Homo sapiens: one gene and its partners. The protein of the gene in region 1 purifies or fractionates together with the protein of each later gene. This does not show direct contact. Each region holds a gene or a part of one and is shown in the gene's direction. Other genes may lie near its edges. The genes, in order: SLC20A2, MAP1B, YTHDC2, IQSEC1, PKP2, TMEM169 and CISD1.

What was found.
Region 2: the proteins of SLC20A2 (region 1) and MAP1B purify together in Homo sapiens (affinity purification with mass spectrometry; one large-scale study listed by BioGRID and IntAct). This does not show direct contact.
Region 3: the proteins of SLC20A2 (region 1) and YTHDC2 purify together in Homo sapiens (affinity purification with mass spectrometry; one large-scale study listed by BioGRID and IntAct). This does not show direct contact.
Region 4: the proteins of SLC20A2 (region 1) and IQSEC1 purify together in Homo sapiens (affinity purification with mass spectrometry; one large-scale study listed by BioGRID and IntAct). This does not show direct contact.
Region 5: the proteins of SLC20A2 (region 1) and PKP2 purify together in Homo sapiens (affinity purification with mass spectrometry; one large-scale study listed by BioGRID and IntAct). This does not show direct contact.
Region 6: the proteins of SLC20A2 (region 1) and TMEM169 purify together in Homo sapiens (co-immunoprecipitation; one large-scale study listed by IntAct). This does not show direct contact.
Region 7: the proteins of SLC20A2 (region 1) and CISD1 purify together in Homo sapiens (affinity purification with mass spectrometry; one large-scale study listed by BioGRID and IntAct). This does not show direct contact.

The regions. Positions count from the first base shown.
Region 1 is NC_000008.11:42,469,726-42,474,270, reverse strand, and holds part of SLC20A2 (sodium-dependent phosphate transporter 2), read left to right. Parts: intron 1-1,616; 5' UTR 1,617-1,880; coding exon 1,881-2,169; intron 2,170-3,069; exon of another isoform or gene 3,070-3,204; intron 3,205-4,545. UniProt on the Homo sapiens protein: Sodium-phosphate symporter which preferentially transports the monovalent form of phosphate with a stoichiometry of two sodium ions per phosphate ion.
Region 2 is NC_000005.10:72,110,225-72,114,769, forward strand, and holds part of MAP1B (microtubule-associated protein 1B), read left to right. Parts: exon of another isoform or gene 1-3,263; intron 3,264-4,545. UniProt on the Homo sapiens protein: Facilitates tyrosination of alpha-tubulin in neuronal microtubules. Phosphorylated MAP1B is required for proper microtubule dynamics and plays a role in the cytoskeletal changes that accompany neuronal differentiation and neurite extension.
Region 3 is NC_000005.10:113,586,024-113,590,568, forward strand, and holds part of YTHDC2 (3'-5' RNA helicase YTHDC2), read left to right. Parts: intron 1-4,545. UniProt on the Homo sapiens protein: 3'-5' RNA helicase that plays a key role in the male and female germline by promoting transition from mitotic to meiotic divisions in stem cells.
Region 4 is NC_000003.12:12,929,800-12,934,344, reverse strand, and holds part of IQSEC1 (IQ motif and SEC7 domain-containing protein 1), read left to right. Parts: intron 1-4,545. UniProt on the Homo sapiens protein: Guanine nucleotide exchange factor for ARF1 and ARF6. Guanine nucleotide exchange factor activity is enhanced by lipid binding. Accelerates GTP binding by ARFs of all three classes.
Region 5 is NC_000012.12:32,886,256-32,890,800, reverse strand, and holds part of PKP2 (plakophilin-2), read left to right. Parts: intron 1-4,545. UniProt on the Homo sapiens protein: A component of desmosome cell-cell junctions which are required for positive regulation of cellular adhesion.
Region 6 is NC_000002.12:216,084,341-216,088,885, forward strand, and holds part of TMEM169 (transmembrane protein 169), read left to right. Parts: intron 1-4,545.
Region 7 is NC_000010.11:58,271,685-58,276,229, forward strand, and holds part of CISD1 (CDGSH iron-sulfur domain-containing protein 1), read left to right. Parts: intron 1-4,545.

The DNA.
Region 1 (4,545 bases):
AGGAAAAAATTGTCTCTAACCTTCCTATTCAACCTCTATTATAATTTTAGTATATACCCCTGGGTATTTTTATGCATTATTATTTTTATTTTTTATTTTTGAGATGGAGTCTCGCTGTGTCGCCCAGGCTGGAGTGCAGTGGCATGATCTTGGCTCACTGCAACCTCTGCCTCCCAGGTTCAAGCGATTCTCCTGCCTCAGCCTCCCAAGTGGCTGGGATTACAAGCATCTGCCACCAGGCCCAGCAAATTTTTGTAGTTTTAGTAGAGATGGGGTTTCACCATGTTGGCCAGGCTAGTCTCGAACTCCTGACCTCAAGTGATTCACCCACCTCGGCCTCCCAGAGTTCTGAGATTATAGGCGTGAGCCACTACACCCGGCCTTTTATATGCATTTTCAACATTGCCATAATCACAGTGTACATAAAATTGTGTGTCCTGATTTTTCCCTTTAAATAACCTTATTGATGGGTCAAATTATTATATTGTATATGGTGTGGTATTTATTCAGTTCAACTCAATAAGCATTTATATGCTTGATACCATTCAAAGAAAATATACAGTGCCTTGGCTCTCCAATAATAGAATACCATAATTACGAAGCTTGCAGTGACATTTTTATTTCATGGATGTATCTCATGGCATCTCCTCTCCCTCCCAGAAGCAGGAACAGTGGCATGGGGGAGGGGCTGCTCCTTCTGGGGTCAGGGAAGTCCTCTCTTAACGGTGATATTTGAGCAGGGACCTGAATGCAGGGAGGAGGGAGCTGTGCAGCTGTGGGGGAAGATTCTTCCTGCAGAGGGATCCTCAGGTACAAAAGCCCTGAGGTGAGAGTGTGCCTGGTCTTTCTAAGGGATTGCAAGGGGACAGTGACACCAGGGCATTGTGAGGGAGGGGAGAGGAGCTAAGGCCAGTGAGCTGCGAGGAGGCCTGAAGGGTCTTCCTGACCCTGGCGGGGCCTCTAGCTTTTCCTCCTAGTGAGATGGGATAGTGGCGTAGTGATAGGATTGCCTCATTCTCCAGGCTTCTCTTTTCCTCTCTGGGGCCTGTCAGTTCCTGCCTTGGTCACCCTCCAGATGAGTGACCTCTCGCCAGGCCTGTAAACTCTCCCAGACACATGCATGATAATATACTGTGCTCATTGCTTATGCGTAAATGTGGAGGTGGGTCGTTGGCCACACCCAGTGGTATCACAGACTCAGATTTGGTTATTGCTGTTCCAGGAAACTGGACACATTCCACATATTTGAAAAGCCATGCAACTAAATTTCTCATTTCTTAATCTTTTGCTCATTTGAGGCACTTGTTCCTCTCTGAAAATAATGACCAAATATGTTTTTCCGATTGCATGAAAAATGTAACCTAGTAAGGATTACTATTAGTCTGTAATTATTAAGCATGCTTCAACTCCTGACAATTCTAGAAAGCAGGTTTTTTTGTGTTTTTGGTTGGGGGTGGTTATCCTAATTATAATCTTCCTTGAATTGCTTTATGGTTAGGTCCGTCACATGCCAAAGTTAGATCCCATTAGCAGGCTTAAAACATTTATTTCTGAAAGAACAAACTGTTACAGGTTGCTGAGTATAATTGATTTCTTTTGTTTCCTTTCTGCTACAGGAGGAGACATCACAGCTTTCCCAGATCGGGAGGAAAAATATGGAATGTGTTTTACCGCTGACTGAACACAACCAAATGAACTGTCCTGACAGTAGTTTGCAAACCAGCAGCTAGCAGTTTGTCCAGCCTCTAACATTGTCCAGCACTTTCCAGAGCAAACTCACTGTTTACAAGAACTCTTGGCCTTACGAAGTTTATAACCTCAAGCTTTGTTTATTTAAAATATTCCTGCAAAAGAAAAGTACCCGGCACCCACTTTCCAAAATGGCCATGGATGAGTATTTGTGGATGGTCATTTTGGGTTTCATCATAGCTTTCATCTTGGCCTTTTCTGTTGGTGCAAACGATGTTGCCAACTCCTTTGGTACAGCCGTGGGCTCTGGTGTGGTGACCTTGAGGCAGGCATGCATTTTAGCTTCAATATTTGAAACCACCGGCTCCGTGTTACTAGGCGCCAAAGTAGGAGAAACCATTCGCAAAGGTATCATTGACGTGAACCTGTACAACGAGACGGTGGAGACTCTCATGGCTGGGGAAGTTAGTGCCATGGTTGGTGAGTAGCCTCTTCTCTATACCGATGGGACATCCGCCCACTGACCCGCTTCCCTGCAGTACTTTGCCCATATCCATAAATGTGATTTTTGCTTTGGCTTTTCAAAAACTGGTTGGATGTTTCACATTTACTCTCTTATTTTTGCTTTCTGCATATTAATTTATGATTTTTAAAGTGTTTAAATATCAGGCAACCATTTATTTTCTGAACTTTTGAGCAAACTTGGTTGCTAAAATAGATTTCAGCTAAGTGAATACTTTTCAGAAAGTACAGAAAAAGACCTTTGTAGAACAGCGCTTTATTATTTTAGAGTTGTTTGAAGGTTGTCTAAGTGAATGTGTTTTCAAGGTTGATGTATGAAATTTCCAGGAAGGTTGATTTAGATTTTTTTCTTAAGGTTTTTCATCAATTAGGAGGCAATGTTTTGAAAACTTGGATGTCAAAAATAATATTTATTAGTCTAACTTTTATATTCACAGTTTAAGTTCTAAAGAAGTTACCAAATAAATCTTAAGTGCGTGTGTTTCAAGAAATTCTGGTCTCTTACATTATTTGTCATCCTTTTGTTGGCTTTTGTTTTGATTTTCTGATTCTACCTCTGGGAGCTCCATTTGGTATGTTTGTTTTGTTTTCCGGCCAAAAAATAATGTGCGTGTTGCCTGGTGATAGCATGACCTTTTATTGCAGTTTCAAGTTGTCTACATGAAGTGTGGAGGTGTGTGAACTGTGTGAATAAGCAGAGTGGCTGGTTGGACAGAGTGATGTCCCCATGGCCTAAGCGGACACAGATCTCGGCCCCGTGGGTCTTCCCATCACTGCCCTCGCTACGACAGAAAAGAACCTTCCCGGCAGGCGTGTGTTAAGTGCAGCTGACAGGATTCTTTTTCTGCTTGCCTCTAGGTAGAGATGACGACACAACAGACAGCTGATGTATACGGGTAATTTGGTTAGGGAGAAGAGGGTTAGAGAGGAATTCTACCACCTTCTGCTTTCAACAGGACATATCCTCTTGTAGGAAGAGTCCTGCAGCAGGAGGTAAGATGCTGGTGTACTAAGAATACAGCCACATTCCCCCGAGTTCTTTATTTTGTCACTTACATTTTTTCTTTTCTTTTTTTTTTTTTTTTTGAGACAGAGTCTTGCTCTGTGGCCCAGGCTGGAGTGCAATAGTGTGATCTCCGCTCACTGCCACCTCCACCTCCTGGGTTCAAGCTATTCTCTCACCTCACCCTCCGGAGTAGCTGAGACTAAAGGCGTGTGCCACCGCACCTGGCTAATTTTTGTATTTTTAGTAGAGACAGGGTTTCACCATGTTGGCCAGGCTAGTCTTGAACTCCTGACCTCAAGCAATCCACCCACCATCACCTCTCAAAGTGCTGGGATTACAGGCGTGAGCCACCACACCTGGCCTGTCACATTTCTTAAACACCTGGAATTTAGAGATTATTGACCAAGTTCACAATGGCCCAATCTCATGTTGTTCGAGGCGTCTGATAAGAAGCAGCCTGTTGTACTAAGGAATTGCATATTCACCAAGCACTGTAGGCCAGTAACACACACCAGGGAGCTCCTACTTCTCAGCTTGACGCTTTGTGTTGTAAAGATGTCAGGTTCAACTTTGGGAGGCCCCCGAGATGGGCAGACCACTTGATCCCAGGAGTTTGAGACCAGTCTGGGCAACATAGGGAGACCCTGTCTGTACAAAAAAACTAAAAAATTAGCTGGGCATGGTGGCACATGCCTGTAGTCCTAGCTGCTTGGGAGGCTGAAGTGGGAGGATTGCTTGAGCCCAGGAGGTTGAGGCTGCAGTGAGTTGTGATTGTGCCACTGCACTCCAGCATGGGCGACATAGCCAGACCCTGTCTCAAAAAAAAAAAAAAAAAAATCAGGTTCAAGATCACTTTCATTCCAACAACTATAGTCATTATTGAATTTTACTTACCTTCATGGAACATATGTATATCTCAGCATAGTCAGATATAATGGAAATTTCTCTTAGAAAAATAACCGTTCTTTGTAAAATTCACCTTTTTAGTTGTGATAGATATCTAAGATTTAATTCCATCAAGTGGAAATTAAGATTTTTCTAGTCAGGAAAATCTGACTAGATGTGTTGAAAGTATGGGACAAATCAAGAAAAACACTGACAAAATTAAATCTTTTTTTTTTTTTTTGAGACGGAATCTCGCTTTGTTGCCCAGGCTGGAGTGCAGTGGTGTGATCTCGGCTCACTGCAACCTCTGCCTCCTGGGTTCAAGCGATTCTCCTGCCTCAGCCTCCTAAGTAGCTGGGATTACAGGCACCCGACACCACACCCAGCTAATTTTTGTATTTTTGGTAGAGATGGGGTTTCACCATGTTAGTCAGGCTGGTCTC
Region 2 (4,545 bases), on another chromosome or scaffold:
TTTGCAATAGACATCATGGCTTCCTGATTTTTTAATTCCCTAATTTGGTCAGGTTTTTGCATGGAACTCCGAAATGACTGTATTGATCCCATTAAGAATCAACCAAGTGAGTGAGCAGAGCCGTTTCTTTACACACCGTAGCAGATGCTGCTTTTCCTCTGAAGATGGCTCTCCTGGGTTCTGGGGTCTTGGCTGCAGCTCAAGATGCAGGCCCTTCCAGCGCTAAGTGAAAATCCTGCTCCCATAGCTTTTCAGACAGTCTGAGATGACTTAGCAACAGAGCAGGCTGGTCCTGTTTTCCTGTGCACGACAAGCTGCTGCTTCAGCCGCCAGGTCTCAGCTGGGCCTCCTCCAGAGGCCACTGCTGTTGTTGCTTGGTGCCTTTGGGCCTTGTTGTGTGAAGCAAGATGGAGCTGCTCCAGGGGGGCCAGCTCTGATGATTGTGTGTTGCAGGCTGGGAAGGCAGTTCCGCATCTGTTACTCTTTCTTCCTATTTCCCCTCCTGCCTTAACTGAGATTCTGGGTTTGGAGACCCTGGCGACTTGGATTCTTGCCATCCGATTACTGAGGGCTCTCTGGGAAGCCTAGAAAATAATCTATAAATCTGTAGAGACATGGTGGTAATGCAGTAAATCAACAGGCCTGGAACGTCCCAATGTGGATGCTTCGTAAATGCCTCTTGAAACCAGGGAAGAGAGATGGTCCCTCTTGCTTTCTCAACTATATTCGGAAAGCATAATGAAAGCTTTGGACATGTCTCCTCCAGAGTTTGGAACAATAGTGTTTCCTCGGACTAGGCTAGCTTCATTTATTTAGTTATGCAGGACTTTATTCCAAATCGTTTTCGCTACCACCAACTACTACTCTTTGGCACCTCCTTTTTCTCCTCCCTAATTAGCCCCCAGCATGGATTTAGCTAGTGGTTCTCATTTTCAGCAAAACCCTGCTTCTTGGTTTTATTTTAATACATAGAGGACATACATCCGTGTCTTGCAAACTGAATTCTAGAGCCTTGTGAACGTTTTCATTGTTTCATTTTTTTTTTAAGGAACTAAAACATATAAAGAATATTAAGTGTCTGTTGGATGTTTTCAATTACCGTTAGATTATAACTTTTCCTTTAGTTAACACTGGGAATCAGCAAGATTTGTTGGTGAAAAGATAGATGAATGTAACATCTACTGCTCTGCATTTTTAGATAAAAGTTTAGCTGATTACATTGTTACATTCTGATGTCACTTAACTGAATGTCCTTCAGTCTAAGATGGTAAGAGAATTTAAAACCCAGGAAAGATTTGGGGTTTAGTTTTCCTTTTCTTTTAACAGGGGAAATAAGAAACCAATACCATATGTGGTGAGAATTAAATGTTAGAGAGTCTTAAATTTACTATATTTGCCTATACTTTTCAAAGTCGAAGACAGATGGATTTCTGCTTGCACTGCTTAATTGGTATTATCTACGACAGCTCTGTGATCCATGCTGAAACACAAGGCAGTCCCCAAATTTAAGGTCATTAAATTGTTCACCTTCTCTAAGGGCTTACTTTAAAAAAATAAGTTATAACTTTTTAGACAAGCAAATAATTATGTCACTTCTCATTTGCTTGTGTTGTAAGATGTTATCTCAGACCTAAATTATTTATTATCAATGCTTTGAAACTATGAGCTCTGTATGTAAGATATTATCGTCATTACATACATATGTTATGAACATCAAGTTGCTGGCTTTAAAAAAAGAAAAAAAGCAAATTAAAGATGAGTTCAAGGGAAAAAATAAGAATTTTTTCCTCTGAGAAATAAAGCATTCCTAAATGTAGCATTTCCTTTAGTTCATTTATTTAGTTTATGATTTCAATCTGATTTCAGACCACTTTTTAGCATAGTTTTACAAATATAATCTTATGATTCTAGGTTAATGATTTAGGTACTTGGAAAAAATATCCAAAAGCCTGTTTTTCAGAGGGAGCAACTAAAGCCCATAAAGGAAAATCAACTTGCCAAAGGCCCAAATAACTGTCAGATAGAACCCATGTGCCATCAACATACAATGCATGGTCATTTCATTTTGCTTTCTTCAATCCACTGTCACCTTTAGAAATATGAATTTTAGCTTTTAAATGGGAGGTGCTTTTTTAAATTGTTGGTTTCATTAAACAACCCTGCAAAATGCTTACATGATTGGAAAACTTGGAACAATCTAGCCTGTACACACCAAGAGTACCTGACTTCTCCTCATTTTTCACCCTGACTTGTTCTTTAATGACCCCTCCCTGCCTCCCTGCCCCATAACCTATTCTTTTCTCCTTTTCTCATCTGTGTATATCATGTGCATGTCAGCCTCCCTTGTGTGCACTGCTACCACCTGGGGTCAGAGAACTGAGAAGGAAAGATCTTTTGTTGCTCCCTGGTCCCAAGGAGCTCACTTTCAGGGCTGGGCAATAGCCACAGAGCAGGCCCAGATTGTTCTCAGAGATGACGGATGCCTTTTGGCTCCAGACATTGAAAGAATGGGGTTCACTGCCTCCAACTGCCTGGAGTTATTCTGCCCCCACCTGGGTAAGCCCAGAAGGGGTACAGTCTTAGAATGCTGGGGAAACAAAGCCTCCAGGAAGAGCTTGACTTGGTGTATATTGGGGTGAAAATTAGAAAGAGGGCTTCCCTGCTCCCCAACAGAGACCAGGATGACTTGCTTCTGAAAGCCTCTTTAGAACCTCTTCACCAACACCCCAGGATGCCCTCCAGCCAGATTCAGAGAGGGGAGAATATGGGAAGGGCCAAAGAGATATTTTTCTGTCCTGTAAACTTTAGAGGGCTCACTGTTGGCTCCTTGTTAGGCACAAAGGGGAACTACATAAACCTACTAAATGCAATATGAACCTTCATTAACAACTACTCTTTGCCTTTACCAATATTATCCAGCAGGAGATACAAAGTAATTACAAATTATTTTATTTCTAAAATTGGTATGGAAAGTGGCCTGATTCCAAAATTTTCCTTTCCAACTAAAATAGCTGGCAAATCCAACATAACCTTTATTTTATAAGTGGTAGTAGTGGTTGTGCATTGCTAAGAAACAATTTGGGTGGAAATTGCTCTCTTGAAAAAAGAACCCTACATTTTTAGTTTCATTGGGAGTGTAAAAATGAGAAATATTTTTATCAGCCGTTTACTAGTATAATTTAGAAATTACTAAGTGGATTTATCATTTAGTACTTTTTCTATTGCTAAATTACAAATATGTCAAAAATAAAATATGTATGAAAATATAAAGCAAACATTTAATTGTGTGTGCCATGACAAGTTAACTGAAGCCAAGGGAAAATGGCAAGTAACAATGTAAGAGCAAGTCTGCAGATAACCCTGGATGAAGTCATTCAAATAATGTACCAATTTAGACATTACTTAGAACAAAGACAGAAAAATTGTATGAATTTAATTTAAATGCATATGTCTCATTATTAACTTATTGACCCAGCTTGACAGGGTAGAAGACAAAGTAGAGCTCAGACCTGGAACAAGGAGAATTCAGTCAACAATACCAATTAAGCAGCTCAGACAGGAACTCGATTTTTTTGCACTAGACTAGTATATAGTGTATACATTGAAGTAAAATATTCTAATGAATTCAGACCTCTCAACCTGTCAAGCTCTCTGTGAAACAAAAAGAACCCATTTATCATTTCTGCACTAAAAAGATCTGCGAAATCTCAACATGCCTTTCTTGTTAAAATTCAAATACTCCATTAGCACAAATGCAAACTGAGGCTATTAATGTTTCCAGGAAGAGCCATAAAATTCTCCCTTATAATTTGACCTTTCCTTAAGCACGTTAACTCTTCCACATCTGAATTCTTCCCATTGATCATATGAGAAATTTCTGCCTGTATTTAGTGGACACACATCTATTTGAAAATATTCCTCCTGGTTGAAAAGGTCTGTGGTGTGTAATCTAAAGATATTTTAGATGTGCAGTGAACTGAGTTTCCAGAATCTTTTTTTTTTGTAATGTCTATGTATAATCCACCTTGATTCTTTACAGGATAGGAAGACTGAATACAATATAACCAAGGGTAAATACAAATATGCCTTAAGGATCCAGTGTGTATTTAAGTAACACACTGCTATTTATTCCTTCAAGTCTGTATACATGACTAATGTCCAACAAAAATGATTACATGACTGGGTGTTAATTTAGAGATAGTTCACCTGCTGTGTTATACCTAGAGGTTCAAGCCCTTACCTTTAGGAGGTATGCAATAAATGTCTGTTGTTCTAGAGATTTGTTCCTGGCAATTGAGAATGCTGTATACAAAGGTACAATGATGGATACCACACACTGGCTCCACCATGAGCAACCTATTAGGAAAAATGTAATATATAATATGTAAACATGTAAAACACACACACACACCAGAGTTCTGGGGTTCCCCAACTTTCCCTGGCTTACTCTCCAGACCTCCCTTCTATGATGCTCTCTGGGGTTCCCTCTGGGCCATCCCCTTTGGGAGGGCAGGAGAAAGAGGACAGTGGGAGGAGGAAGGAAGA
Region 3 (4,545 bases), on another chromosome or scaffold:
GGATTAGTATTGTTTGAGTTGTTTGATAAATGTATATTTAGCTTTACAAGAAACTGTCCAACTGTTTTCCAAAATGACAGCACTATTTTGCATTTCCTTTAACAATCTTAAGAGTTCCATTTGCTCCATATTCTTGACAATATTTGGCATTTTAGCTTTTGTAATTTTAGCCATTCCAGTTGGGTATGTGGTAATAGGCCATTATAGTTTTAATTTGTATTTTCCCAGTTACTAATGATGTTGAGCATCTTTTCATGTGCTTATTAGCCATTGTGTATCATCTTTGTGAAATGTCTGTTCAAATCTTAGTTCACTTTTTGTTGTTGGTTTTTGTTGATTTGTCATCTTTCACTGAGTTGTAAGAGTTTTCTGTATATTCTGGGTACAAGGCTTAATTATTATATGTTTTGCATATTTTTTCTAACAGTATGTGGCTTGTCTTTCCATTTCCTTAACAGTGCCTTTTGAAGAGCAAATGTTTTTAATTTTGATGGAGTCCATTTCATCAGCTTTTTCTATTATGATTAGTATTTTTTTGTGTACTAAGAAATTTTGTGTACCAAACCCAAGATCATAATTTTCTCCTATGTTTTTAGAAGTTTTATAGTTGGCAATCTTACATTTTAGATATATGATTTATTTTAAGTTAATTTTCGTTTATAGTATGGGTGAGTCAAGAATTACTCGTTGGCTTTTGCTTATACAATTGTTCCAGTACCGTTTGTTAAAACCATTTGTTTTTTTCCATTGAGTTACACTGACACCTTTGTCAAAAATCAACTGGCCATAAATATGTGGTCTACTTATTGGACTCTTCAGTTTCATTAATATCTCTCTCTCTCTCTCTCTCTATATATATATATAATATATAAATATATATTATGTATTCATATATAATATATAAATATATATTATGTATTCATATATAATATATAAATATATATTATGTATTCATATATAATATATAAATATATATTATGTATTCATATATAATATATAAATATATATTATGTATTCATATATAATATATAAATATATATTATGTATTCATATATAATATATAAATATATATTATGTATTCATATATAATATATAAATATATATTATGTATTCATATATAATATATAAATATATATTATGTATTCATATATAATATATAAATATATATTATGTATTCATATATAATATATAAATATATATTATGTATTCATATATAATATATAAATATATATTATGTATTCATATATAATATATAAATATATATTATGTATTCATATATAATATATAAATATATATTATGTATTCATATATAATATATAAATATATATTATGTATTCATATATAATATATAAATATATATTATGTATTCATATATAATATATAAATATATATTATGTATTCATATATAATATATAAATATATATTATGTATTCATATATAATATATAAATATATATTATGTATTCATATAATATATATAATGTATTTATATGTAATATATATTATGTATTTATATATTAATATATTGTACATACATAATATATAGTATATTTATATATTAATATAATTAATATTTATGACATATTATTATATATATATTTGCCAGTGGTACACTGACATTATTTTAGTAGCTTTATAGTAAGTCTTGAAATCAGTTAATCCTTCAATCAATTGTCCTTCAACTTTGTTTATCTTCTTCAATATTATTTTGGCTGTTCCAGGTCCTTTGTACTTTCATATAAACTTTAAAGTCAGCTTATCAGTTTCTGCAGAAAAATTTTTTGGTATTTTGAGTGGAATTGCATTGAATCTATAGATCAATTTAAAGAAAATCAACAATTAACACTTCTTAGTCTTCTAATCCATAAGCATAGTATATCTGTTCATTATTTGGATAGTCTTTAATTTCTCTCAACAATGTTTTATAAATTTCAGAGTACAAGTATTACAATTTTTTGTTAAATTTCTCCCTAAGTATTTAATGTTTTTGATACTGTTCTTTAGAATTTTAATTGCAGGTATTCATTGTTAGTATATACAAATACATTTGATATTTGTATATCTGCCCTGAATCCTATGACCTTATTTCATTTATTAATTCTATTAGCTTTTTATGCCTTCTGATAATAAAGATAATTTTACTCTTTTCCTTTTCAATCTGATTGCTGTTTATTTCTTTTTTACCTTATCTCTCTGGCCAGAGCCTCCAGCAAAATATTGTTCAGTGTTGAGAGCCACATATCTTTCCCTTGATCTTAGGGGGAAAGCATTTTTTGTCTGTTAGTATGGTGAATTTCATTGCTTGATTTTCTTATGTTTATACCCCACTTGGTCATGGTGTTATTTTTATATATTGCTGGATATAATTTTGTTAAATGAGGGATCTTTGTTCATGAGGGGTATTATTCTGTAGTTCTTTTTTCTTATGTATCTTTGTATGGTTTTGATGTCAGAGTAATGCCGGCCTCATAAGATTAGTTGGGAAGTGTTTGTCCCACTTCAGTATTTTAGAAGAGATGTGTAGAATTGGTATTATTTCTTCCTTGAATATTTGATAGAATTCACTTATGAAGCCATTTATTTATTTATTTATTTATTTATTTATATTATTTTTTTTTGAGACAGAGTCTCACTCTGCCACCCAGGCTGGAGTGCAGTGGCGCGATCTCGGCTCACTACAAGCTCAGCCTCCTGGGTTCACGCCATTTTCCTTCCTCAGCCTCCTGAGTAGCTGGGATTACAGGCATGTGCCACCATGCCTGGCTAAGTTTTTGTATTTTTCAGTAGAGACAGGGTTTCACCATGTTGGCCAGGCTGGTCTCGAACTCCTGATCTCAAGTGATCTGCTCACCTCTGCCTCCCAAAGTGCTGGGATTGCACGCGTGAGCCACCATGCCTGGCCAACAGTGTTCTTTTATTTTACACTTTACTCCTTTATGTTATATTGTTTTCATACATTTTGTTTTTATATAAATGCTATAATGTATTGTTTTTACTTTACATAGTCAGTTACCTTTATGAAGATTTCAAAGTCAGAAAAATATATTTTTACATTTATTATTACTAATCTTGTGCTCATTATACTTTTATGTTAATACGAATGTCCATTTTGTATTATTTACTTCTGCCTGAAGAACCTCCTTTCTGGGACTCTGGATACACAGATGTAAGACCATCTCATATGGTTCCACAGGTCACCGATGTTCTCTTCATTTTTTTCAGTCATTTTTCTGTCTTCATTTCAGATAGTTCTACTGTTTTGTCTGTACGTTCACTGATGTTTTTATTTAGTGTCTAATCTGCTGTTCTTTCCTTCTAATGTGTTTTTAAAGGCAGTATTTTCATCTCTAGAAGTTCAAGTCTTTTAAAAATTAAAAAAAAAAAAAATATATATATATATATATATATATGTATATATATCTTCTGGCCCGGCGTGGTTTATGTCTGTAATCCCAGTGGTTTAGGAGGCCAGGTTGGGATGATAGCTTGAGGCTAGGAGTTTGAGAACAACCTGGGCAACATAGGAAGACCCTATCATCTCTACAAAAGAATAAAAAAATTAGTTGGGCATGGTGATGGGCCACCTGTATTCCTAGCTACTGGGGAGGCTGAGGCAGGAGGATCACATGAACCCAGGAATTTGATTTTATAGTGAGCTGTGATTGTGCCACTGCATTCCAGCCTGTATGACAGAGTGAGACCCTGTCCCCCTAAAAAAAGTTAATAATATCTTCCATTTCTCCTCTCATTATGTTCAAGTTTTCCTCTACCTTCTTGGACATAATGAATGTATTTATAACAGATGCTTTAACATTCTTGTCTCCTAATTACATCAACTCTGTCATCTCTGAGACTGTTTCTGTTTATTACTTTTGGCATTTTTTTCTTTTACTTTTCTTTCTGTTTTGTCTTCTTGTTATCCAGTGCTTTGTCTGTGGAGAAAATGCAAGTACAAATTTTATATTCCATATGCACATGAGAAACGGGTTCAGATTTGTAAAGAGCTAGTAAAAATCTACTTGTAAATGTGTCTGATTGCTCATTGCAATCAGAGTCTCAAGATGACAACAGTATTTAACTTCTCTTCAGCCTTAATTATGTAAATAACAACCTTTGTATATTCTTTGTGTTTCTTATAATTTTGTTGGGCAGCTAGGTTTTTGTATATTCCTTTCAATAGCGTTAGACTTTGTTGTGATGCACAGTTTAGTTGCAATCAGTTGAATCCTTTTGAAGTTTGCTTTTAAGTAATGTTAGGAATGGGCCAGAGCAGTCTTTATTCTGTTATTAATTTAGTTCCAATACTAAGGTATGGCCCTTCTGTGGGCCAGTACCATATATATTACAGGTTCTATCTGTTCTGGCTGAAGATAACACGAAATATTCCCAGCCATGAGTGAGCTCTAGGAATTGTTTGGTCTACTTGTTTTCCTTTGGATCTTTCCCTAGCCTTGGGTTATTTATCTTTTTTCTCACTCATGTTCAGGTCAGCACTTAGCCAAAAACTTGTGGGAACCCCTCTGTGTTTCCTTTGGAGCTCTCTTTA
Region 4 (4,545 bases), on another chromosome or scaffold:
AGAGGCCTGTCTCAGGAAGAGCCTCTGGGGAATGGTGCATTCACTTGGGGCCAGTAAGGGGCAATGGCTTACTGGTTTGCTCAGCTAAGAACAAAGAGTCTTGGACATCTCACATCTACCAGGATGCTCTCTCCTGAGCCTGTGATCTGCCTGTGGCTTGCTGCAGAGTACGGCTGCTCTCACTGCTGCACAGGCCACGGCCGGAGCAATGCGCTGGACAGGGGAGGGTTGCATCCTGCTGGCCCACCTGACACGGTCCCTGAAGTCTGTCCCCACTGCTCCTGGGCACAGCCGAGCTCCAGGATCATCTCTCGACCCAGGCCCATGTGCCCTAGAGGGGAGGCTGGGATAACCAGGGGTCCCTGCAGAGTGGACAGGTGGAGGCCAGCAGTGGGGAGACAGGAAACCAGGAAAAACCACCTCCCTCAACCAGCCAGCTTTGGTCTGTGTAGATTCTTTCTTATTCAGTTAACTTTTAATTATCTGTGTAGCACGTGAATACATTCTTCACAGAAAATGCATGCCTTGCAGCTCAGGATAACATCCTCTTGGACTCAGCATGTTGCAGTCTCTCCTTCCAGATTTTTTTCCTGTGCATTTGTGTGCACTTCTAGGAACTCTAGACAGCCATGGTTAAGAACACAGCTTGGGGCTTGCTTGCCTGGCTTTAAATCCTGGCTGTGCCCCATCGTATCTCTATGTCCTTGGGCAGCATAACCCCCCGTCCCACAGTGGCCGCATCTGTGAAATGGCTGATGCCAGGGGCACCCTCCTCCCAGGGCGGTGAGGGTAAAGCGTTGGTCTGTGTGAAGTGCTGAAAGCAGGACGTGGCACAGGATAGGGCCTTACTATGTATTAGCTGCTACTGTTGGATCCTTGCTGACATCACTCAGGGCGCGGGACTGTGACATTGTCTTATGAGGGTATCGCTGGGCTCTACACACAGGCTGTCTTGCTCCTGTGTGCTGCTGAGTGGTAGTCCCCGCCGTGGCTATAGGTTATTTGGCCAGTTGCTTCTAGCTTTTCATAACTAGCACTAGTGTGACAGTGGTTGTGATCCTTACACACACACCTGGCAGGCCTCTAGATCATATGGCTGGAAGTGGAATTGCTGGGTCTTAGCTAGGCACGTTTTTAGTTGAAGGAGGAACTGCCCTTTCCCTTCCCTTTCTTTGGCCCTGCGCCTGTGTACCACCTCCACTTCTCTCCCTGCGGGGTGGTATGTCCCGGCCTTTGCCCGGCCTCCAGCACAGCTCTCAGTTCCCACCCCTTCCTAGCAACGAAGCAGTGAGCGTTCCTGGCACAGGCCTCTGTCTGGGGGGACGCCCCCTTTAAGGGAATCATGTACCAAAGTGGGAGAGCCAGCAGCAAGCGGGGAGGAAGAACAGAAACGAAGCCTGAGAAAGTGGTGTAGGTTGGTGGGGAGGGCATCCCGGGGGCTGCCGAGGTCTACCAGGCCTCCAGATGTTCCTCTGGGCATCTGCCGCTTACTCCCAGCTGGCCCAGCTGACAGCCACACAGCTGATCTGGCTGGCGGTGCTGCGGGAGGGCAGGGGTGCAGGAGCCAGAGGCAGGAGGGTTTCAGTCCTGGATCTGCCACCTATCAGCTGTGGGACCTGGGGCAACTCCCTGAACTCTCTGAGCCTCACTGCCTGCACCCGGAACATGTTTGTGCAGTGGATGGCAGCTGTTGTGGTCAGCAAGGGCTTCTGTGTCCAGAGTGCCAAGGGAAGGGAGCTTCCAGGGCTGGGCTTTAGGAAGACCCAAACAGGCATTGTGATGGGCCAAGCAGTCAGAAATAACGAGAATAGCTAATCCTTCCATGTGCTGACGGTGCGCCAGGCATGGTTCCCAGGGCCTGTCACGCGCTAACGCACGTTACCCTGTGCAGTGGGTGAGCTGAGTCTCACATAGTTGGTAGACGACTAGGGACGTCACACCCTGGCCACTTGGCTCCTGAACACATCCTCTTAAAATCCATGATGTAGGAACTGCTACCACAGGTATCCCTGGGCTCCCTACCTCCTCACTGGGTGACAGATCTGTAAACTGAGTCCAGGAGGCAGAGCCACACCATCTGTGGGACGCCATGCAGCCCTGCAGCACATGGAGCTGGGGCAGGTGCCCAGCAGGGACCTCACTGAGTCTGTCACCTCCGCATTGGAACCCCACCCCAGCGTCTCCTGCTCCTGTACCTGGTACACACCGTCAGGGGTACATGCCTGGCTATGTCCACTTTCTGTCTGTCACATTCCTCCCTGGAATGAGCCCAGGTGACCATGTCACAGGTGAGCCACACCAGACCTCTCCCACCTCTGCAAGAGCATCCTTGGCCCCAGAGCTGCTTCATGATGACACGGGCACCCTCAAAAAGGAGTGAGAAGCTTGTCTCTGAGAAACATGTACGCAGGGCTTGGGTGGCCACCTGGTGTGACAGTGTGGTTGGACTACTTGGCTAAGAGCTTTCCACAGGGGCCTCTGAGGCCCTTCCAGCACAGGGCCCTGTACCTGGAGGCAGCCCCCTTCTGTGGACCTGGCCTCCCCTACACTCGGCGCCCAGCCCCTGGGGCCCAGCAGCCTCGGGTCCCATCCACCTGCTGGAGCTACTGCAGAAGGGAGGCAGGGGATGCTGTCACTGGGATCCTGCAGGGAGCGTGGCTGTTTCACCCTTCCAGCGCCCCCAGGGGGCCATTCCCCTCCACCTGTGGGAACAGGGCTCAGAGAGTACCCCTGATCTGCATGCTCCAGCTCTGTGCTCCTTGTGTTTAACGTGTCTGCTGTCATTGATAAAAATAGCAGTGAGCAGAGCCGGCCTGTGCAGAGCCTGGACCAAGCGCCAGGCCCCATGCCGAACACCTTCCGCCTATTGTCTCACTGATTCGCCACAGCCATCCTGGGAAGCGTAGGTGCAGGCAGCGAGGCTGAGAGCCCAGGCCCAAGCTCAAGGCCACACACCAGAAGTGCTGGGCCCAGAGGATGTGCAGTGCTGCTCCCGTAGCCTGTGGTGCTGATGATGGAAAGGATGGGCTCTCTTAGGAGCACTTTGAGCTGGGTCTTTGGAGGTTGGGACCCCTCTCCCCTAGACACAGGCCACTGTGGCCTGTGGCCCTTGATGCTACCCGCAGCCCAGGATCCCGAGCCCTGGCCTGGGTCTGAGGTGGCTGGTGCTGAGTCTTGGAGAAGAAGACAGTGCCAAGGGAAGCCCTGCAGGGGGTGCTTGCCACACTTCAGAGGGTGATTCTCCTGCCTTCTCTCTGGGATCAATACCAGGGAAGCCACTTGGGTTCACGCTACCAGAAAGTGCGTGTAAAAGTCAGAGCTGGTGGAGCAGGCAGCCTCCGGAGGTGGCGAGCTTGCTGGCCCTGGCAGTGTGGGAAAGGCTGGAAGTGGCACCTCTCTGCAGGACCCTAGGTTGCTGCATTGGAAGGGCATTTTCAGGTGTGCAGGGACTCTCCGAATGCTGAAGTTGGTGAGTCTATCCTCACCCCCACAAGCAGTTAACAGTTACCAGGGCTCAGACCTCTGACCACGGAGATCCTCGGGCACTCCAAACCCTGTGTTGGTCTCTGCGTTAATCATGGCCTTCTCTGTTGCATGTGACAGGAACTCTATCAAACTGGGTTAAGCAAAGAGGCTTTACTGGTTCACGGACCTGAAAAGTCCCGGGTATTTCTTGGCTCCATCTGGCTTAGGGTTGGCCCTGCCCCTTGCCAGATCCTCCCTGACCCAGGGCAGGAGGGCCATCAGAGAACCCCAGGCCTGTAGTCTGACCTCAAGGCAACCCCAGTAGGAGGAAGAGAGATTCTCCTCCCCTCATCGGCTCCTTCTGGCTCTTGTGCCTCTCCCTGAACCACTTGGGCAAGCAGGATGCAGGGCTCTGACTGGCCTGGAGCAGAGAGTAGAATCTGCCCACTAGGTCTTAGGGCCTGAGCTGGAGGGTAGGCTGGGAAACCTGGGGGCTGAAGCTAGGTGCTTGGGCATCCATCCACTTCCACATCTCTTAGGCATCCTGAACAGTTAAAAAGGACTGGAGCCAAGCACAATGGCACATGCCTGTGGTCCCAGCTGCTTGGGAGGCTGAGGCGGGAGGATCACTTGAAACTAGGAGTTTGAGGCCAGTCTAGACAACATAGTGAGACCTGGGTCTTAAAAGAGAGAGAGAGAACCCTTTCCTGGATCCTGCACACCCCTGCTGGGAAAATACCAGGGTAAGCACTCAGTGCTTTGCTCCAGCAGGTAGGTGTTCCCCACGTGCAATCCACAGCCTTGCAGCAGCTCTTCCTCAGAGCCTCACACAGCTCACTCTTCCCACCAGCAGCTCAGCTTGCCGCTGAAAGACGATGAGAGATGCGTGTGCAGGAAGTGACTGGTGCAGTCTGTGCTTACCTGTCACACTTGAATCTGAATCGTCATCTGATGTGAGGAAAAGCTGGCTCAGCCAGCTTTAGAGGAGGCAGCTAAGGCCAGACCTGGGAGCACACAGCAGGGATGGAGCCAGGAGGCTCCGACTACACTGCCTGCTGGGGCATTTTAGGGGGCAGCAGG
Region 5 (4,545 bases), on another chromosome or scaffold:
TTTTAGTAGAGACAGGGTTTCACCATGTTGGCCAGGATGGTCTCGAACTCCTGACCTCAGGTGATCCGCCCACCTCTGCCTCCCAAAGTGCTGGGATCTCAGGCGTGAGCCACCGCACCCGGCCTGTGTATCTTTTCTATAATGCCATTTCTGGTAATTGGATATTGGACATAAAAACAGTTGTAATGTTCTTAAAGTGTTTAAAGACAAAAGCTTGAGAGCTCAATATGTAGATTTAAATAAAAATGGACAGTTGGAAAAAAAGAAACTTAAGCATTTGAAAACACAACCTGCCATTACTATTAAAATAATTCACATATTTATATTCTTGGAATAATCAGCTTTAGACTTAATAACATTCGTTAACCTAAGCAGTCATAATCAAAGTTCTGCAATTCCTTGATTTCCAGAATTTGTGGATGAAAACCTTCATTAGAAGCTTAATGGATTATTTTTTCTGAATCTCTCAGTAAGCTATTTATGGGGTGGGTGTGGGTGAGCATCAAGCTTATTGGATCTTGATTACTCTTTTTCATTGAAGAATGAAAACAAATGGGAACTTTTCTTGACAGATAATATGAATTTATAGGCCACCAAAATATTACAGATAAATACACAAGCCATACAGATAAAAGAATGATAGTAAACATATATTATTCAAATATAGAAACAACCTTGCCAAAATGAACAAAGTCAGCTTTTCTTTTTTTTTTTTTTTTTTTTTTTGAGATGGAGTCTCGCTCTATGCCCAGGCTGGAGTGCGGTGGCACAATCTCGGCTCACTGCAACCTCCGTCTCCTCGGGTTCAAGCGATTCTCCTGCCTCAGCCTCTCAAGTAAGTGGGATTACAGGTGTGTGCCACCACACCCGGCTAATTTTTGTATTTTTAGTAGAGATGGAGTTTCACCATGTTAGCCAGGATGGTCTCGATCTCCTGACCGATCCACCCGCCTCGGCCTCCCAAAGTGCTGGGATTACAGGCATGAGCCACTGCACCTGGCCCAAAGTCTGCTTTTCTAATAAAAGTCTGCCTACATTCTGGGGAAGCAACTTTCCTTCCTCTCCGTATACCCAGAATGACAGAGAACAGTCGAAACTATTTGAGCACCTTCCATCTACCCCAAGACAAAAGCATGTATGTGACTATCATACTCACATTTTAGTTCCATTCTGGTGAGCCACAGAATACATACCTGCCTGAATGATTAAGCGCAAACTGAATTTGTGTAACTAGGATATTTCTAATGTACAGGTAATCTGACTAATCAACAATTAACTTGTCAAGTACTGATACAAGACTGTGCTAGAAGTGGTAGTGTAAGATACAGTTCTTTCTGTCAAAATCTCTTTGGAAGAGAAAATAACCTCTTTGTTTTAACGTGGCCCCACTCCAATCCATTCTCCACACAGCTGCTAGAGTGAACTTTCTAAAATCTCATTGCATCATTTCCCAGTTTAAATTCCTTCAGTTTCTTACTGTTATCTGCAAGAGTAAAATTATTGAACACAGCATTCCAAGTTCTTCGTGATCTAATGCCTGCAACTTCTCAAACTTCATCCCTGGGGCCACTACCCTTGCTCCCCACCAAACACACACAGGCAGTTTATCTTGCTTGGTATTTCTACCCCTCCTTGTCTCCCTCCCTTCCTTCTCTTGCCCAGTTAACTTAGTTCAGTTGTGTCCCTTATAGGCAGCCTCCTTCACCCCTCTCCTCTGATCTTGAATGCAAGTTAAAGAATTTGATAATTGTGAGTCACAGATATTTCCACAGGGAAGAAACATGAAAAGTGCAGGAGTTTTGTGAAAATACATTTGACAGATTTGGTGGATTTAAAGTAGGAACAGACCTAGCATGGTGGCTCTTTCCTGTAATCCCAGCACTTTGAGAGGCCGAGACAGGAGAATCGCCTGAGGCCAGGAGTTCAAGGCTGCAGTGAGCTCTGAATGCACCACTGCACGCCAGCCTGGGCAACAGAGTGACCCTGTCTCAAAAAAAAAAAAAAAAGAGGCCGGGCGCAGTGGCTCACGCCTGTAATCCCAGCACTTTGGGAGGCTGAGGCGGGTGGATCATCTGAGGTCGGGAGTTTGAGACTAGCCTGATCAACATGGAGAAACCCTGTCTCTACTAAAAGTACAGAAAAAATAAGCTGGGCGTGGTGGCGCATGCCTGTAATCCCAGCTACTTGGGAGGCTGAGGCAGGAGAATCACTTGAACCCGGGAAGTGGAGGTTGCGGTGAGCCGAGATCGTGCCATTGCACTCCAGCCTGGGCAACAAGAGTGAAAATCTGTCTCAAAAAAAAAAAAAGAAAAAGAAAAGTTGGGTTAGCAGTTATGAATCAGTTGGGAGGGGTTAACCCTGGCACGTGAGAGGCAGGGGAAATATAATGACTTGAAAGTCATTACAAAGAAAACCTGTAGTAAGTATTTTAAAGCAAAAAATAATTTGTGAGTTCTATAAATTCACCTTTTTTTATATTATTGGGAGTATAATGTGATATTTGCCATGGAAGTTATAAAGTCTTACAAGTCTTAAAGTCTCATGAGATATCTCAGCAAATAATTGGCAGGAATGCCAAAGTAAAGACACAGTTACAGAAATGAACAGTGTATTCATTCATTCATTCATGAGACAGCGTCTGTCTCTGTTGCCCAGGCTGGAGTGCATCTTGGCTCACTGCAACCTCTGCCCCCCGGGCTCAAGCCATTCTCTCACCTCAGCCTCCTGAGTAGTTGGGACTACAGGTGTACGCCACCACACCCAGCTAATTTTTGTATTTTTTTTGTACAGATGGGGTTTTGCCTTTTTGCCCAGGCTGGTCTCAAATTCCTGGACTCAAGTGATCTGCCCACCTTGACCTCCCAAAGTGCTGGGATTACAGGCATGAGCCACCGTGCCTGGCTGAGAAATGAACAGATTTAGATACTTCCAGGATATTTCTATTTAATACTTCACCAGGATGCTAAATTACCAGTTTATAATAACAAATTCTACAATTACATATTCTAATACCTCAAACAAAATATGACATGAACACCTGTGATATAAAAGGGCCATTTAATGGCTCACGCCTAAAGCGCTGGCACTTTGGGAGCCCGAGGCGGGTAGAACTCTTGAGGCCAGGAGTTTGAGGCCAGCCTGGCCAACATGGCAAAACCCCATCTCTACTAAAAATACAAAAATTAGTCAGCATGGTGGCACACACCTGTAGTCCAGCTACTCGGAAGGCTGAGGCACAAGAATCGCTTGATCCTGAGAGGAAGAGGTTTCAGTGAGCCAAGATCGCACCGCTGCACTTCAGCCTGGGCGACAGAGCAAGACTCCATCTCAATAAAAAAAGTGGGAGGGGGACATTTAAAATGTGTTTTTGTCATTACCTAGAGCAGTGATTTGAGGATTGCCCCCCAAATGTCATAAATTGGTATATCAGAAGATAGCTCTTGAATTGCTTAGGGGGCTCCTGAAAAATAAGGACTCTAGTGGCTGGTATATCGTGTGAGTGATAACAGCAATGGATTAGTCAGTCGCACACTGGCATGTGGTATGTGTGGCCCACTCTTGCAGGAGAGCTGTTCTGTCCCTGGCATATTCAACGTTTTAAGAACTCATAGCCAGTACTTTCTAGCATATACCTGATACACCAAGTTGTTTCTCATGGTTGATTATGTGAGCTAACTGGTCACAAAATATAGCACTGTACAACTATTGGTTAAATTTTCAATAGTATAAAACTTTATTAGACTTTCATCTGCTTTGAAACAATTTTTCACCATAGTGTTCCCTTTTTTTTTTTCCTTTTTGAGACAGAGTCTTGCTTTCTGTCACCCAGCCTGGAGTGCAGTGGCCCAACCTCAGCTAACTGCAACTTCTGTCTCCAGGGCTCAAGCAATCCACCCACCTCAGCTTCCCAAGTAGCTGGGACTACAGGCCCATGCCACCATGCCCAGCTAATTTTTAAATTTTTAAAATTTTGTAGAGACGAGATCTCACTATATTGCCCAGGCTGGTCTCAAACTCTTGGACTCGAGTGATCCACCCACCTCAGCCTCCCCAAGTGCTAGGATTGCTAGTGTGAGCCACCCTGCCCAGCCAACTATAGTTTTCTAAACCAACAAATTCTACTTATTTTCCAGCCTAAGCAAATGCTTACTTGGGCTGTTGTGATTTCCATCAATATCTGGTTGTTCTTCTTGGAAAGTAAGAATAGAAGATAAAATATAGTTTTAAAAAATATGTAAGTCCAAGGAAATGAATCGTATGTTTTATGCCAACACAGACAGACAAAAAACAAAAAAAATTCCTTCACCAACTCAGGAGTGCGGACATACGTATGGTCTTTGATGAGTCTCAGTATATTTTCTGCTTTCTTTTAAGCTCCTACTATTGCTAGTAAATGACTTTAAGGATCCATTCAAATATGAATTGCTATACAAATTCCTCTGAATAAGTGGCAAGATCCCATGTCTTACCTGGAATAACATGTCCTCAACTTTACTGTAATGGGAGAAGTTAAATCTTTTAAGATTTGTGGAGAACGAGAGCTGT
Region 6 (4,545 bases), on another chromosome or scaffold:
CCTAGCAATTGTGCCATAACAAGGCATATAAAGGAGCTTATTGATGTCTTTTTATTAAACTTCTCCTTAGTCTCAGGCTTTCACAAAAAATAAGCTACTCCTGAGTTGCTACCACTTCACCCAGTCACTTAAAAAGATTTATCGAGCATCTATTTGTTGGCCTACTTCTATGGTACCACTTCATAGGGCTTGAAGTCTAGTAGAAGAGCTATGCAATAAATAAGTAAAAGAAAAATAAATAATGACAAATGTTGGTAAGCCTTACACAGGAAACAAGCTGTTGTGATAAAGAATAATGAGAGGCAGAGCAGGGAGTCAAGTTTTTAGTTCGGGTGTCAAGAAGGGCTCAGAGGAGGAAACATTTGAACAAGGACTCAAAAAAACAAAAACGGGCACAGGAAGAGGCGGGGTGGAGCAGCAGAGCAGCAAGATAGACAGCAGTTAAGAAGACCTCAAGCATTTGGAAGCATTTGGTGCTCTTGAGGAAGAAATACACAGCCAGTGTGATTGGAGCATAGTACCCCTACTATGGTGGTACAGATGGGGTGGCAGGATGGGGAGGTCCTTAGGCCACATGGACTTCCACATGTATAACAGTAGGAAGTTACAGGAGGATTTTAAGCAGAAAACAGCCTGATTTTCTTTTTTATTTTTATTTATTTATTTGACATGGAGTCTGGCTCTGTATCCCAGGCTGGAGTGCAGTGGCAGCGATCTCGGCTCACTGCAGCCTCTGCCTCCCAGGTTCAAACAATTCTCCTGCCTCAGCCTTCCGAGAAGCTGAGACGACAGGTGCGCGCTGCCACGCCTGACCATCTGATTTTCTTTATGTTTTAAAAAGATGTTTCTGGCTGGGTGGCTCATGCCTGGAATCCCAGCACTTTGGGAGGTGAAACCCCATCTCTACTAAAAATACAAAAATTAGCCGGGTGTGGTGGCACACGCCTGTAATCTCATCTACTCGGTAGGAGAATCAGGTGGGGGAGGTGGGGGTTGCAGGAAGCTGAGATTGTGCCACTGCAGTCCAGCCTGGGTGACAGAGTGAGACTCTGTCTCAAAAAATTAAAAAAATTAAGTAAAAGATGTTGCTTACTGCTGAGTGAGGAATTGATTGGAAGGCAGCAAGAGTGGAAGCTGGAAGATAGGAGCATTTTTTTTAGAACCACAGTTAAGAGACAGTGGCCTCCTAGACCAGAGGGGAAGCAGTGGAGATGGGAAAGTTGGGTGGATGAATTTAAGAATTATCTGGGCCGGGAGCAGTGGCTCACGCCTGTAATCCCAGCACTTTGGGAGGCCAAGGCGGGCGGATCACCTGAGGTTGGGAGTTCGAGACCAGCCTGACCAACATGGAGAAACCCCTTCTCTACTAAAAAATACAAAATTAACTGGGCATGGTTGTGCATGCCTGTAATCCCAGCTTCTCAGAAGGCTGAGGCAGGAGAATCGCTTAAACCCAGGAGGCAGAAGTTGTGGTGAGCTGAGATCACGCCATTGCACTCCAGCCAAGGCAACAAGAGTGAAACTCCATCTCAAAAAAAAAAAACAAAAACAAAAAAAGAATTATCTGGATAATTTTTTTCAAGAGTGGCTTAAAAGCAGTTATTCTAAGCACGAGTTCCAGAGTATGAGCATGTTCTTAAAAACCTGTTTTCCCTCCTACAATGACCAAGAGTACAGAGCTAATGGTTGATTGAAGCTAACACTCTGTAATATCACATTTGTAAGAATCTTTTTTTTTTTCTGAGGCAGAGTCTCACTCTGTTGCCCCGGCTGGAGTGCGGTGGTGTGATCTTGGCTCACTGCAACCTCTGCCTCCCGGGTTCAAGCGATTCTCCTACCTCAGCCTCCGGAGTAGCTGAGATTACAGGTGTGTGCCACCATGCCTGGCTAATTTTTGTATTTTTAGTAGAGGGGGTTTCACCATGTTGGCCAAGTTGGTCTCAAACTCCTGATCTCAAGTGATCCACCTGCCTCGGCCTCCCTAAGTGCTGGAATTACAGGCATGAGCCACCGTGACCAGCCTGTTAATAATCTTTAGACTGGAAGTGGAAGTGGAAGATGGGCACAGCTTAACTGCCAGAGAAAAGAACAAAGTCCTCTCTCTTCTCTCAAGTCTATTGATTAAAGCCTTGGAAATTGGGTAAAATTTTCTTTTAACCTCTCTCTTGTGAAATCTAAAAGGAAGGAGAAATGTTTAGAACCTGCTTCTCAGATCAAATACTTACAGCATAATAAAGTATACAAAAATGGGGAAGAGAATCAAGCCTTTCTTTCTTAACAGTTGTTTATGTCATATTTCTGGTAAGACATTTTCTCTTCTGTGTCCTATGAAGTCAACAAGTACATACTGACTTTGTACTACATGTCCAGCCCTGGGGTTTTCCCATTGGTGGTTAAGAAGAAGAGTAAGACAGTTCCTAAACTCTAGAAGTTTGTTATCTACCTAGAAAGATGAATGAAAACTCATGATGCCATCTATAATCTATACAATGATATGAAATGCTGCATAATTAAGTATTAAGTGTATGGTTCAGATGGCAAATGCTATTAAATTACAAATAGAAGGAGGCAAAAGAAAGGGAATAGAAACTAATATTTATGAAGTGTCAGTCACATATTAGGCATTTTATACTGGGCCATTCATTGAATTCTCACCACACACCTGCAACACAGGGTTAGGGTGGGAGGAGAGGACGTGGGGGCTGGGGTAGTCACAGAAGGGGACGTGAGCGAATGAGTCTGTCTTGAGCCAGGCTTGAAAGATGTGGAGAAGCGTGACAAAGATGAAGAAACCAACATAAGCACATGTGTTGAGTAGTCACGTTGCAGGAAAGGGAAGGGGAAAATTGCTACTGAATCCTAGGGTGGGGTGCAAATACGGAGAGCCTCAAACACCAGACAGGCCTTCAGATATATTTTAGTCAGTAATGGCAAGACAAAATAAAAATATTGTTTTGTTTTGTTTATTAATCACCATTAATATGGTAAAAAATGGTAGAGGAATGTCTTCCATTTTAGAATGTCTTCCAGTTTAGAGGAAGTAGTATGAAGGCTGTATTCTGGCATATGGTGGTAGTAGAAATTCAAATGAACAAATTAACAAAAAGATTTCATAGGAATGACTAGCAGGACTTAGAGACTAATTATTATTAGGTATATGGAAATATGTCCTTAATATAGGAAATGGGTTCATCAAAGAACATTCTAGAAGTTTATAGATCTTTGCATAAATGTTGGCGGGTAGTATGGCACAATGAAAATAACATGGGCTTTGAAATTAGCAAACCTGGGTGTCAGTTCCAGTCCCACCACTATACTAGCTATGTAAGCTTGAGCAAATTTCTCCTCTAAATGGGAATAATAAAGGTACCTACTTCACTGGTTTGCTGTGAATATTGAACAATACGATTATTGTAAAGTACTTAGAGCAGCACTTGGCACACAATAAACATCCAATAAGTTTCTGTTGTTACTATTATTCAGTCCAAGTGTCCTCTTCTGCAAAATAATACTTGCTTCATAAAATTGTTGTACCTAGGCTGGTATGGTGGCTCACACCTGTAATCCCAGCACTTTGGGAGGCCGAGGCAGATGGATCACTTGAGGTCAGGAGTTGGAGACTAGCCTGGCCAACATGGTGAAACCCTGTCTGTACTAAAAGTACAAAAATTAATTGCACATGGTGGTGTATGCCTGTGGTCCCAGCTACTCAGGAGGCAGAGGCACGAAAATCGCTTGAACCTGGAGGCTGAGGTTGCAGTGAGCTGACATTGCACAACTGCACTCCAGCCTGGGTGACCAAGCGAGACTCTGTCTCAAAAAAAAAAAAAACAAACAGGCCGGGTGCAGTGGCTCACGCCTGTAATCCCAGCACTTTGGGAGACCGAGGCGGGCAGATCACAAGGTCAGGAGATCGAGACCATCCTGGCTAACACGGTGAAACCCCGTCTCTACTAAAAAAGAAATACAAAAAATTAGCCGGGCGTGGTGGTGGGCGCCTGTAGTCCCAGCTACTCAAGAGGCTGAGGCAGGAGAATGGCGTGAACCCGGGAGGCGGAGCTTGCAGTGGGCTGAGATCACGCCACTACACTCCAGCTTGGGCGACAGAGCGAGACTCCGTCTCAAAACAAACAAACAAACAGACAAAAATTGTTGTACCTAGAACAACTATGCAATATATAGCACATAGTGTTGCTTAATAAATATTTACTGAAGCTGGGCACAGTTGCACATGACTGTAGTCCCAGCTACTCAGGAGGCTGAGGTGAGAGGATTGCTTGAGCCTAGGAGTTCAAGTCAAGCCTGGGCAACATAGAAAGACCCCATCTCTAAAAATAAATGAATACGTAAATATTTTTTGAATGTGTAATTCAGTGAGATAATGCATGTACTGTATAATCAACACAGAACCTACCAAATTACACAATCGGTAAATTCCATAAATGTTGTGGTGTTTCCTTCTTTATCCCTTTCTCCTTTCCTTTCCCCCTTCTCCTTTTTTCTCGGTAACACTGAGAGGTTCTCTGCTGTAAATAAAGATGAGTT
Region 7 (4,545 bases), on another chromosome or scaffold:
ATGTTAAATATAAAGTGTGTACGTGTATGCAGAACTCTTGTTCATCATCAGAAGAAAAATAAAAGGTAGTTTATAAAAAAAAATTTAACGGGAATCAGGCCAGGACTGGAATCAGGCAGAGGCAGTGAGAATGAATGATTGGAACTGAAATACTCTTAAGATCCTGATCATTGAGATAGCTCTTGATACCAGTATGGTCGATAAGACCATTAGTTTATTATATTTTCTAGTACTAAGTGGCCTTCACTGCCTACTCGTCCAGTCTCTTATGATTCCTCCTCATATCCAAATAGATGACCTTTCTGAACATCATCCTGCTCCTTGATAACTCTAGCACTCATTGATCACTCTCACCCTTAACCCTTTCTCTTCTATTTGCAAGGAAGATGTTAACTCTTAGGCTGTTCTCTCTCCATGTCCTCCAGATGCCGTTTTCTTTTGCTTAAATCTTTGCCTCAGTGATATCTGTTGTTCGTAAATATTTAGTGCCTCATAAAGATTTTCTTCAGCCTTAAGTCACTCATAATTCACCCTCATCTTTAAAAAAAAAAAAAAGCCAACTATACCAGGTAATTTTGAAAGGCATCCCTTAACCTGCCTTCCCCTGAAATCACTTTTTTTTTTTTACTTTACCCTCAAGTTGCAACATAGGGATTTGTCTGTTCATCTTGTACTTCATTATCTATCCCAAACCCTGATCACTACAACGCTTGTAACCAAAATTACATTTCATAAATTCTTATTCTCTTTCATATTCTTGTGTATTTTATTGAAACTAATTTTCTAATTCATTTAACCACAACATAGGAAAATATTGTTTTGGTTCACTAAATTCACCAAGTCATTTAAAGTCATTATTTAAGGGTTTTTGTCTGAAAAGAAAGGTATGGATCATACTGAAAATAAAAGGGATAGCTCCTATAAGTTATAAACAATAAATGAAAAATAAGAGGGCTGGGTGCGGTGGCTCACGCCTGTAATCTCAGCACTTTGGGAGGCCAAGGCGGGCAGATCATGAGGTCAGGAGTTCGAGACCAGCTTGGACAACATGGTGAAACCCCCGTCTCTACTAAAAATACAAAAAATTAGCCAGGCATGGTGGCACGCATCTGTAGTCCCAGCTACTTGGGAGGCTGAGGCACGAGAATTGCTTGAACCCAGGAGGCAGAGGTTGCGGTGAGCTGAGATTGCACCACTGCACTCCAGCCTGGGCAACAGTGCGAGACTCCATCGCAAAAAAAAGAAAAATAAGGGGGGAGTTTGGAGCTATAGACTGGCCAAATTGATGGTGGTTAGAGCTAATTGAGGGTAAATGGGATTCATTATAGTATTCCCTGTGTGTGTCTGAAATGGTCCATAATAAAGTTTTTTTAAAACATAGCTTCTTATATATACCTGAAGTTTTTTGTTTGTTTGTTTGTTTGTTTTTAATATATGTATCAGGGAGTAAATTCCACACCCTGATACAGCAGGTTAAGAAGAAGGTAAAGATAAGTCATTTAGTATAAGAGCAATGCAGTGTAAGGATAGAAAAATTGCACATAGGAATTGCAAATTTAAATTAGTCATCCATTATTTCTTTTGACTCAACCAACATTATTGAATATCACTTATATGCCAGGCCTTGAGAAAAAAAAAAATTACCAGGCACGGCCTGCCAGCCTATGGGAGATCTAAGGGAGGGAAGGGTTTAAGCACAGCTCCCCTCCCCCTCTCCTCATAGAAGAGGAGAAACATTATGATTCTATGGCAGTTGATGGTGGGCTGGAGAGGGCAGTTTAGAGCAGAAAAGGGGCTAAGGTAAAAGAAGCCGAGAGAGATTTCTAAGTTAAAGCAAAATAATGCTCACAGTAAAAGAAAAAAAAAAAGCTGAAGATTGGGTTATATACAAGGCTGATGAGTTTGGGAACAAGTCCACGTTTTCTCTCTCTCTGAATAATTTTAAAGAGAAAACCAAAGATTATACAATAGTACTCCAATGGAAGAATAAGCAAATGGGAGGATTATTCAGAAATTATTGGAAGTGTTACCTTTCTCTACATTTGTGATCTTTAATGGTATTTGTGTAGATATAAAGCATGATTACACAAGGTCTGGTAGGGTGAGGTTTGACCTAACTACAGGAATTAACTGTCCTTGAGAAATGTCTATAGAAAAGAAAAGCGAGGGCTGGTCATGGTGGCTCATGCCTGTAATCCCAGCACTTTGGGAGGCCGAGGCAGGCGGATCACCTGAGGTCAGGAGTTCAAGACCGGCCTGGCCAACATGGTGAAACCCCATCTCTACTAAAATTACAAAAATTAGCCAGGTGTGGTGGTGGGCGCCTGTAATCCCAGCTACTTGGGAGGCTGAGGCAGGAGAATTGCTTGAACCCAGGAGCAGAGGTTGCAGTGAGCTGAGATTGTGCCATTGCACTCCAGCCTGGGCAACAGAGCAAGACTCCATCTCAAAAAAAAAGAAAAAAGAAAAAAGAATTGGGTCTCAGTAAAGTTCCTTGTTGCTTCTGAGATTATGACAATTCTTAATAGGCATATACCCATTTATCAGGGATTATTGGATGTTGCTATTTTTATTTGTTCAATTTCTCAGGTCTTCAGTTCTTTCTTTATCCTAATTGTTGATTTTTGGACCTGTCATCATTTTTGTCTATCTCTGTATAGTTTCCTTTTCCTTTAGAGTTGCCAGTGGCATCCACAGCTTTTTGCCAGAAAAGACTGATGATTCAGGCTACACTCATGAAGTGATAAAATAACAACTTTTTTTTTTTTTTTTTTTTTTTTTTACTTCTGGGAACTGTTGCATTTGTCCCTAATGAGATTACAGAATTAGAATTTGGGAAGGGAAAAAAAAAAAAGAAATGGAAATTGTTTTCTCAAGACCTTAGAGCAAATACAAAGCTATTTTCCTCGAACACATGGTACTGTGACATTGGCATAGGGTCATAAGTGGCCCTTGCTAGGGGTTGGGGGTAGAGCACAAAGTGTGTGTTTTGATTCCCCATGGGGCAGCTAGTCTTGGGTATCTGGAGTCAGTTTCCATTTCTTTCAATGATGCCTTTGGTGTTACCCCTTTTCCATGTCAGTTATTCTGTCCTGTCTCCCACCATCACAAAATCCAAGGGAGGTAAAGCTTAAAAAAAAAAGTGACCTGTGGGTGCAGTTGGCAAATTACATGAGAAAAAAGAATGCAAGAAGAATGGGATTTAATGACTAGGAGAGATTATTTTCACTTATCATGATGAGTTTCATGTAGAAATTCCTATAGTATTCTCTTTTTAGGTCATGAAACAAATTAACCAATACTAACCAATTGTAGTTCTTTGGATCTCAGGACTGTTTGCAATATGCAGGTGCCATCAAACAAATATGTTATGAAGTACTTTATAATTCACCTAAAAAGTAAAGTGTAACTAAAATCGACAGCATTAAGGAAGTTGCGTTATTTTAGTCTTTTGGGATATTGCCCCCCTTTAAGTTTGTACTAAAGATGATGTTCAGCAAATGTTGTGGTGCATATACTATGCAAAGCAGCATTTTCGCCCATTTTGTGATAGGTACATTAGCTATTCAGAGTGGCTTTCCATTAGCTAAGAAGTGGATTGCTACAGCTCCTGGCATAGGAAATGTTTTCTCAAGAAAGTTCCATGGTAAATAACATTAGAAAGGAAGATCATGAATCTAGCCAGAAGTCATAGCAAAATTGTAGACCTGCTTGGAATAACCACAGGGTAATACCATGAAGCAGCACTAAAGTTGGAGATAAATCTACACATAATGTGTACCTACTTAAAAAATGTCTTCTGATGAGGCCAAAGGTTTGAAGCTGTCAGGTGATATATTAACTTAACTTGTCTTCTCAGTCATGCAGGACCTGGGAAAGACGAAACATTAGTGTTTATTAGGGAATTATAGCAAGAAAGAATGATAATGCTACGGGAAGGAAAACAGTATAAATTAATTTGTTAAGAAAAATACTACCGTGGTTGAAAATAAAATCCAAGGAACACATTAATTAGAAAGTGAGGATAAACCGGAAGAGGCAGAAATTATGCTCTCTTACGAGATGAGCAAAATGCAGGAATAAGTTAGATAAAGTCTAAATTATTAAATAAACTAGAAAAGAAGACCAAGATACAAGAGACTGAGAATGATCCTTTATATTACAGTTTTAGAAGATTAAGCTCCAGTTTTATGTAAGGTACTATTAGGTATGGTGAAATAAGAAATTTGACTCAATAGTGCAAGTAAACTATACAACTAATTATTAATTATGTGTTTTTATTTGGCCTTGGGATGTGTTTTTTTGTACTTGTCTGTCTAGGGTTTTATTTGATAGTCTGGGAACTTATTTCAAACACTGAAGATCTGACTCAGGAAGTGCTGGGAAGGAGTCCAGTGTGTTTATCCTGACCCCTGTTCAACTTCTTCCTGCAGCCCACTCCATGCTGGGAATAGACAACTCTCCTCTGAGGCTGAGGCTAACCAGATTATGCAGAACTTTCTTCTCTCCAACATTGCCTGGAGCTGGGGTAGTTGTTAAGTCCTT